Linked DNA regions of Homo sapiens: region 1 is linked to region 2. Evidence: fine-mapped expression QTL. A gene starts in region 2. The other region holds a variant in brackets. All regions are shown on one strand. Distances are between the middles of the regions.

The links. PIP is the estimated chance that this variant, and not a neighbour inherited with it, causes the effect.
Region 1: its variant is the best candidate, but not a certain one, in a credible set for the expression of SLIT1 in whole blood (GTEx, PIP 0.51).

What each region holds. Positions count from the first base shown.
Region 1 is chr10:97,221,342-97,225,716 of GRCh38, reverse strand. ARHGAP19 (Rho GTPase activating protein 19) reads left to right here. Exons shown (of 12, transcript NM_032900.6): 12 at 1-3,538. The region is part of intron 11 of ARHGAP19-SLIT1 (ARHGAP19-SLIT1 readthrough (NMD candidate)); the gene reads left to right. The region is part of intron 2 of LOC105378447 (a long non-coding RNA gene); the gene reads right to left. Among named protein-coding and RNA genes, the nearest start is that of SLIT1, 38 kb to the right of the region's middle. The variant C/T (reference allele first, on the strand shown) is at 1,519.
Region 2 is chr10:97,184,355-97,188,734 of GRCh38, reverse strand. It overlaps SLIT1 (slit guidance ligand 1), which reads left to right and starts at 2,776. Exons shown (of 37, transcript NM_003061.3): 1 at 2,776-3,257. The coding sequence starts at 3,061. All of the region lies in intron 11 of ARHGAP19-SLIT1 (ARHGAP19-SLIT1 readthrough (NMD candidate)), which reads left to right. RefSeq lists enhancers at 1,931-2,431, 2,432-2,932.

The DNA.
Region 1 (4,375 bases), 37 kb before region 2:
ATATTTTGGGTTTTTCTCTGTTTTGATAGTATTGGGTATTTGGTTGTTTTTGTTTGTTTATTTCTTTGTTTTAAAAGCCATGTTTTTGGTTGGGCTCTAAGCTAGATATCTTTCCCTCTTTTTCACTTTGAGCTTTGGGAAAACTCTTTATCTTATGAGGCTGTATTCCTCAATACCTAATTTGTGTCCAAAGAATTTATAGCTTTTCTGGACATTTTTTATTATTTCTTGGGTGTGACATCAGAGTATTTGACCTGCAGTATTGAAAAAGGAGAATTCAGAATGATACAGTATTTTAACAAATCTTAATTATTAAACTCTTTTCCTTCCTTCCATTTCTCCCTCCCTTGTCCATCTCTCTCTCTCTTTCCCTTTCCTCAGTGATGTGAAAATAATTGTGTTTTGCTGAACTTGTTATCTTCATTCAATTTCCTCTTGACTAAAACATCTCTGGTGCCAACGTAATACTTCTGAACCAAATCACTGTGACTCAAGGAAAGTCACTGACAGCATAAGAGAAGTTTGCTAAAATATTTGTATGTGGGGGAAGCTCTGGAGTGTGCCTAGGAGGGGGCTGGCTGCCTTTATGTCCCAGGATGACTCTTTATGGGTGGGATTACATTGCACCCTCTGAGGGTGCAGGCTAGACCGTCTCCTGAGAGGAAGTTAGGATCAGAAAGAAGAAGCAAGCAGCAACCTCTGCAGGGCTGACAGGATTTAAAGGAGAGAATGTTCTTATTTGGAAGCAGCTGTGGCTTGTCACCAATGTTCAAGGAGTGTTACTGTTCCGCCCTCTCTTTGTCAGAAGGGACACAGGTGGTAATTTGGAGATGGGGCCAGAGCTTCTGGCTTTTGGATTTGGTGTGTTCACTTGTGTTGGATAGAGCAGTGGCATGGCTTTGACCTAGTATGAACTGGTGTCTGCCCAGAGAGCAGCATGTAGCAGGGGGGAATGCTCAGGTTTGTGCCTGGCTCTGTGGAGCTGTACAACCCTTCTCACCCTGTGGGTTGGAGCCGAGTCAGGCCACTATGGGGAAGCAGTTGCCCCACAAAATGTGGTTTGCTGACCTATTTCTAAACTGTTGAATATGCTGCACCATTGCTGAAATGAAAGATGACTCTGGGGGAGCAGAGCTTGGCCTTGTGCCCAGCTGGCAGCCCCCTCTGCCAGCCTTTCTGCTGCTTTTGCTGCTGTAACAGCAATAGTGGAGAAAAATGTAAAATTTGGTCTTCCAGCTTAATGCAGTGTGAACAATAGATGGTTAGGAAAACAAAACTGCTTAGAAGCCCCTTTCTCTAGAGCAGTTTTATGTCATTTGTAAAAACACATATTAGCAAATTCGTTTGCGTAGGTTTCTATTAAATATTTGACTTTTTTTTTCTTATTAAGAAAATGAAATCCCTTACACCAGATATCAGTTAATTCAAACAGAAAACCCTTTGGGTATCACCAAATTGAAATGGTATTCTTCCTTAACTCTTCCTTCTTTCCTTTATTTGTTTAGACGTGCTTCATCC[C/T]GAAGTGGTGCTATGGTCTGTTAAACAGGGCTGGCATCAGGTAGAGGGAGCAGAGTGGTGACCTGATAGCTCCTGTCATCGTGTTAGTTTTTGATTCTATTTAAGGGAAGTAGCTGAGATTTAGACGGATGTAGATGCTCTTTGGGTGAATGGAATCATAAGCAAAGGTTGTGTTCTGGGGTGAGGATCATGAGAGAGATATTTATCACATGCACATGCCTTTATATAGCTGGTCTCCTTGGGTGGTTTATGTGTGTTTTGTTTATTTATTGAATATGTTTTCCCTTGCTTTAGGGGTTTTATAGGTCATTTTTCTTAATAGAAGCTGTGATCGACTTAGAATCCAAATTTGAGGAGTAAGCAGCATAACCTTCTACCTTGTAATATGTAACTATTCTAATCCAGTGGAATCTTACGGAAAACACAGAGAAAACCCCTTTTATCATTTGCCACAGAAGGCTGCTGTCTCCCTTCTGATTTGGTGGGCAGGTATTGTTTTTGAGCCAGTATTTAACAGAGTTTTTTAATCTATAAGATTTTTTTTGAATCTATTTCATTGTGTTTGTTTTTCATGTTGGAACAATCTCTCTGGAAGTGCCTCTTCTTGTGGCTTTTACAACTTCATTTCTTTCTGGGGTCACCTGTGATGGGCTTTGATGTGGTGTCAATTTGGGGCCTTGTGTTTGTGCCAGAGGGATACACATATTAAACTGCAGGCCACCTTCCTGGTCCAGACTGTACTGTGTGAACCCCACTGACTAAATTAGTGAGAACCATAGGCGTTGGAATTTCTCACCTTTTACAATGATAGACTTTTGCATTGGGACCAATGAATCTGGTGTGAAAAACCCTGCTGTAGTAGTGAAAGAGCATCAGGAGATACTGACTGTACCTGAGGGCCAAAACAGGAGCAGGTAACGAACCGTAAAAAAAGGAGCAGGTAATGAATCGTAACCAAAACTACAGTTGATCCTCCGCAAAGGAAAGCTCTTTACCCAGAATGTCCTTCCAGAGTCATTCAGGAAGGACAAGGGAACACCCTTGGGAAATGGGCTAGTGGAGGGCTGTTGACTGCAGTGACACCTGGGTGCTCCGGAGGTATCTGTTCTGTTGACCTGTAAGGAAGCAGTCGATCCTAGAGTGTCAGAACAGAGCCATTCTCTCCTCCTGAGTAGGAACGTTTCTGTTCAGTTTCCCTCACAGCAGCCTGTGTTAGCATGCAGTTGAAAATACTGCCGTCTAGGAGAACCTGTGGTCACTGGGAACGTGCCCCACAGTGACTGGCCATGCAACCAGGTGATTTTTAGGAATAGATGTCTCTAGACTCTGTCTCCTTTCCTACAAGGCCTCACACAGATGCTTGAGGCTAATGGCCCCCATTCTGAGGTCATTTTTGTGTAGAACTCCTTTCCCCAGGAGAGAGCCTTATCTCTGCCCTCCTTTACCCTGAAGGCTTCAAACGGAAGACAGGACCTAGATCTAAACCTAGATACTAGCATTTTGTGGGATTGTCTAGAATTTGGGGAAGATTTGGGTTCCTAAGATGCACAAGCGTTTTACACCAGTGGTGATTAACTCAACTAAAACCCACTGTAGGAAGTTAGCTTCCCCAGACAGCTAATGCCGAGATCTTCTACCAGCGTAGAGTTGACAGAAGCAGGCCAGCGAGGAGGTGTGGGACATAATAGCCTGAGTGCTTGGGTTACCATGGAGACTGGAGTGTGTGAGGCCACAGCCTGTGCTAAAGAGCCATGGAGCCCTCCCCTGGCCATGTCTGGGGACAGATAGAACCTGTTGGGGGAAATATTCCCTCACCCCAGGGTTCTTTCTGCAGAGCAAGGGTTGCCTTTGTCCTATCCCTGAGCTTGCTCAACAAGAGAAACAAGGTTTCTTAAGTGTTTTGGTTAAAGTTTTCATTCTTATTTGACTATGTATATGTAATTGTAAAGAAACGATCCTATGCATTGTCTTTCTTTTATATTCTTGTAATATTCTGAAATTAAAATTGTTTTGTTTCATATCCAGAGGATTTGACTGGTCTATTCACATTTTGACTGTTGATGTTGAAGAGAGAGTTTTTCTCTTGTTCTGAGGAAAGTGAAGCCTCTAGAAAGGCTCCTCTTTGGCTTGTTTTTAGGTGGGTGGGTGGGTTCAGGAGGAGCGGGGCTTTTGGCTGATAAGAAGTATGATTTGGAGCCTCTGGGATCCTGAGCTTCCTAATTTCCCATGGCTGAGTCTAGAATGCTTCACATAGATTTCAGTTTCTCACATAATTTTTATTTCTTCATTTAAAAACAAGGAGTGATGGTTACAATAACAGGAAAACCTAGATGAAGTTTTCATCTGAGGCAGGAAGGTGTGTTTAGACAGCTCATGTTGAAATGTTCCTGCTGCTGTCTTGGTGGGCTTGGGCTGCTTTAACAGAACACCATAGACTAGGTGGCTTCTCAACATCAAAAATGTGCTTCTTACAGTTCTGCAGTCTGGGGAGTCCAAGAGCATGGTGCCAGCAGATTGGGTGTCTGCTGAGGGTGCACTCCCTGGTTCACAGACAGCCGTCTTCACTGTAACCTCACATGGTGGAAGGGACAAGGGATCTCTCTGGGGCCTCTTTTAGAGGAGCACTAATCCTATTCATGGGGGCCCTGCCAAAGACACTCCCAAAGACCCCTCCTACCAAAGACCCTACCTCCTAATATCATCACATTGGAGATTAGGTTTCAAAGTTAATTTGTGGGAATACAAACATTTAGTCTATAGCAGCTATTTTTTTTTTTTTTTCGAGACAGCATCTTACTCTGTCACCCAGGCTAGAGTGTAGTGGTGCGATCTTGGCTCACTGCAGCCTCCACCTCCC
Region 2 (4,380 bases):
CAGAAGCCATAAAGAGAACGCTCTCTTCTTGAGTCACACGGGGGAAGTGGCCCTCAACTCCCAGCACATGTGGCTGAGAGGACTCAGAGGGGACTCACGTCACTGGGCTGGGGAGACTCAACCTCAAATTTCCCTTCCAGGGGGTTGCCCTGCTGGTGGCAGGTGAGCAGGGACAGGCTTGGTGGAGTATTCCTGGCAGAAGCAATGTGCCAGGCCTGCCTCCTCCCCACCCGTGCAGCGGGAGCAGGTGGCCCGGCTGCAGGGAGGGGGTAGGGAGACCCAAGAGAGGGAGGGGCATGGGAGAGGAAATTGAAAAAACAGAGTGGGGCTTGGGGGTGTGCGGCCAGCCAGGCAGTTGTTTAACAAGTAAATGTGCCGGGCACGCTAATGAGCTGCGCTCATTCATGGCGAGCCGCCTCCTGAATTGGGGAGCTGGCCAGGTTCTGGGGTGGAGGAACCAGGGACAGGAGCCAAGCTGGGGAGCTGCCCGCTGCTTGGGCAGGGCCCCCTGTGATGGGCTGCTGGGGGAGTCTTTGTCCTGGGTCTGGGGGGCTCCTTCCTTCCCTCCCTTCAGAGGAAAAGCCAGGCTTTGCCAGGCAGCAGCAACTCAGCCCAGGGCCTGCTTGGGATTCACTGTCCAGGCTGGTCTGGAAGCTTCTAGGGCAGGGGCTGGTTCTCAGGAGCCATAGGCAGGGCTGATCTTGCACCCCTGCTCACTCCCACCCTTCCTCATACCCCTTCACTCTGTCACTCTGAGGACCTAGGGGCATGTCGCCTGGCTAATCAACACTCTCTCCCTTCTCCACATGGGTCTTGGCTTCCAAGGGGCCCTCCGAGGTCCTGGGACCAGGGAGCTACTGCTGGAGCAGAAGGCTGGAGACATCTTCAACAGCCTGAGTGCTGTCTGTGACAGGCCTACTAAGTGCCAGGTGCTGGGGTGTGTGTCTGGGTGAGCGAGTGAGGATGCCAGGGGGTGGGCAGGGGTGTGGAGAAGCAGCTGCAGGTACTAAGAGGGGATAAACAAAGCAGCGGGCATGGAGGAATGTCACTCTGAGGCTGCGGGGAGAGCATGGATAGAGGGGCTGGGGCCCCATGGAGCAGGAGCTGGTGAGCTGCAGGGCAGGGGCAGCCCTCTCAGACTCCGGCCTGGTTTGTGGGAAGCTTCCCTAATATCCCACCACACAGGCACCCCTGAGAAAGCCCTGCCCCCTGAGAAACTGAACTTATGCTCAAGAACCCACTTACCGGATGGAGGTCATGGACAGGGATGTGTGAAAACTTTAAAAGAACTGTCAAAAGCCCATAAAATCAGCCACCTAAATTGTAACATACTGTGCTATGACAGTAGAGAGACTGCAAAATTCTCATCAACATGGAAAAGAAAAGCAAAGAAAACGCCTGAGCCTTGGGTACCTGGTGGGTGATAAGGCTTCAACCTTGTGGAGTCTATCAACCTCCCCTATCCCCACCCTGCCCGACACTCTCCCCACCAAATGCGTCCATGCTGTGTCTGGACCCAGGCCGCTCCTGAGACGGGAGGTGCTTCTCGGGCTACCCAGCTGTGTCCTCTTGCCAAGCAGCCTCACGTCAAGGCCCCGACTGCTGGACACTGCCCCAGCGAGCCACAGCTGTCCTTGGCGTTGAGGAGATCTTTCGTCTTTTCTGGGGTTGAGGAGAATTCTCTCCCCACCTGGATGTCCCGTTCACACCCACGTCCACACATGCCTTACGGTGACGAAGGTCCCTACCCAGCCGGGTGTGAGGCCTGGGTCTGACGGGGCTGGCCTGTGGGGTTCTCTCCCAAGCAGGCCGCCCAGCGCTATGCCAGCCCTCTCTGTCTCCTTTGATGTCAAGATGGAATATTCATTTTCATCTGTTTCCACCTGTCAGAAATGGAGGAACGCTGGTGTGAGTGGAGGAAGACGTTTGCCAGATTTCCAAGTCCCCTTAATGTCTGTCCCTCTCTTCTACAACGGGGGAAGAAGCCCGTGTAACTGTATGGTACAAATACGCCCTGCTGAGCAAGTGTTCCAATCAGAGCCATTCTCATCCTGGGCATGCGGCTAGCTTGTTCCCCTCTGAGAAGTGGGTGCATTGAGGTAGGAAGGAGACTGTACTCCGCCTAGCGCTTTCGTGGACCCTCCCCCCCGACAAAGCTCCATCCTCAAAGTCCAGGCTAAGTAAGGTTGGTGGCTTGAGGATGCTACCTGGGGCACAGGCACAGGGTTTCCCTTAACCAAGAATTGACACAGCGAGTCGGGTGGGGCCGAGAGGCCGCTGCTGCCGTCGGGGGATGGGGGGAAACGGGTCTGACTCCCCGGGAAGGCGTCCAAGCGGCAAAATAAGATCTCCCTCCCACCCTGGACTAGCAGCTGGGGCCGCGGGTGCCGGGGTGCGTGCGTCTAAATGTGCGCATCCTCGCCGTGTGTGTGTGTGTGTGTGTGTGTGTGTGTGTGTGTGTGTGTGTACAGCCAGGACTTGGCGGGTCGAGTCACACCCCCTTCCCTCTTCTCCCATCCCCCGCAGCCCCGTGCCCGCTGACGGCGCCTCGGAGGTTCCACCTTTGAAACTGTAGGCGGCTTGCAGCCGCTGAGTGGTCGTCGGGAGAGGGGGGCTGCGGCGGGGGAGGGCGGGGAGGAGCCTGGCCCTGGATGTGTGCTTTTCGATTGATGGATGACTGCCGGGTGGGAGCGAGCGCGCGGGTGTGTGTGTGATCGTGTGTGTGTGTGTGGTGTGTGCGCAGGGTGCGTGCGCGCGCGGGGCCTGCCCATTTTCCTCCTCGCAGCAGTCAGTTGGGAGCTGGAGGGAGGGAGAGGGAGACGCAGGCGGCGAAACGGCAGAGGAGCCGAGCCCCCTCCGCCCAAGGCGCCCTCCCTCCGTCCGCGCACAGGCGCCGTCGCTTGGAGGAGCAAGGTGCCTCCCAGCCCGCAGGGGCGCCGCGCGCAAGCCCGCGGGCTCTTCGGTGGCTCTGCCCCGGGACTGCACCTGGAGGCGGCCCCGGACGGGGATGGTCAGCGGCTGCTGCCGTCTGGCTCGCGAGCGGGACGCTGTGAGGGCACCATGGCGCTGACTCCCGGGTGGGGGTCCTCGGCGGGGCCGGTCCGGCCGGAGCTCTGGCTGCTGCTGTGGGCAGCCGCGTGGCGCCTGGGTGCCTCGGCGTGCCCCGCCCTCTGCACCTGCACCGGAACCACGGTGGACTGCCACGGCACGGGGCTGCAGGCCATTCCCAAGAATATACCTCGGAACACCGAGCGCCTGTGAGTATGGTCCCCGCCCCTGGCTCCCTGGCTCCGAGGTTGCCCTCCCACCCAGACGCAATTCCGGACTTGGGGGTGGGGGCAGGACCATTGGGGCCCGTCCGGGCTCCGCAGCCCACAGACGGGTCAGTGCCTGCCGGGGTCTTTCCCGAGCCAGGAGCCAGGAGCGCCGTGGTTTCCCCATCCCTGGGATTCAAAGGGCCCTCGGCGGGGTTGTCAGCTTCCGTCCTCACACCTGCACCCTGCACCCTGCACTCCGCACCCTCAGGCCCTCCTCACTGCGCCAGCGCTTTATTCCTCCAGGGTGCCTGCGAACTGGTGTCAGAAAGCCTTCCTTGCACCCAGGAGGGACACTTCCCACACTCGCCAAGCACAATGTCTCCTTTTGGGCACATGGGGCTACGGCCGCGTTCTGAGCCAGCTGCGCAGATTCCCGCTCCCAGAGCTTGCTCCTGACGAAGGGCAGCAGGGTGGGATGGAGGCGAAGTTTCTGGTCTGCCCCTTCTTCTCCATTGTTTGCCCCAGAGCCTTGAGAATTCTTCCCCTGCAGGTGCCACGCGTTGGTCCCCTACTCACCCGCCTCCCTCCACACCCAGCCATCCCCAACACAGGCAGACAATGGGACCTGAGGGCTTTGGGTATGGGGCTTGGGGTATGTAACATTCAGCACCCGAAAAGGGGCAGGTGTGTCTTGGATGGAGAACCCGGTGGATAATGCCAAGAAGTCAGGAGCTTGGAGAGGGGGGCCCAAGGTTAAAGATATTGACCATGACAAGTAATAAAAAAATAGCATTTCTCTTCCCCTGTTCTGTCTCACTTGTGAATTCTTGAGGAAACTTGATCCTTTTCTTTTCTAGACCCAGTAAGCTAGTAGAATGTGTGTGTGTGTGTTTGGGTGTGTTTGAGTGTGTGTATTTACAGACCTTTATACTTTGTTTTCTGTGACTCTCCTGCAGAATGTGTTTCTGTGTGAATTCCTAGTATTAAGGGGCCACCTTAATAGCGTGAGGCCATGAGAGTCCCCGTAATGGGCTGTGTGTGTGTAGATTTTGGTCACATGCAGGGCCTTTGTACTGCTCGCAGAGGTGACTACACCAGGAGATTTTTGAACAGGGCTTTGGAG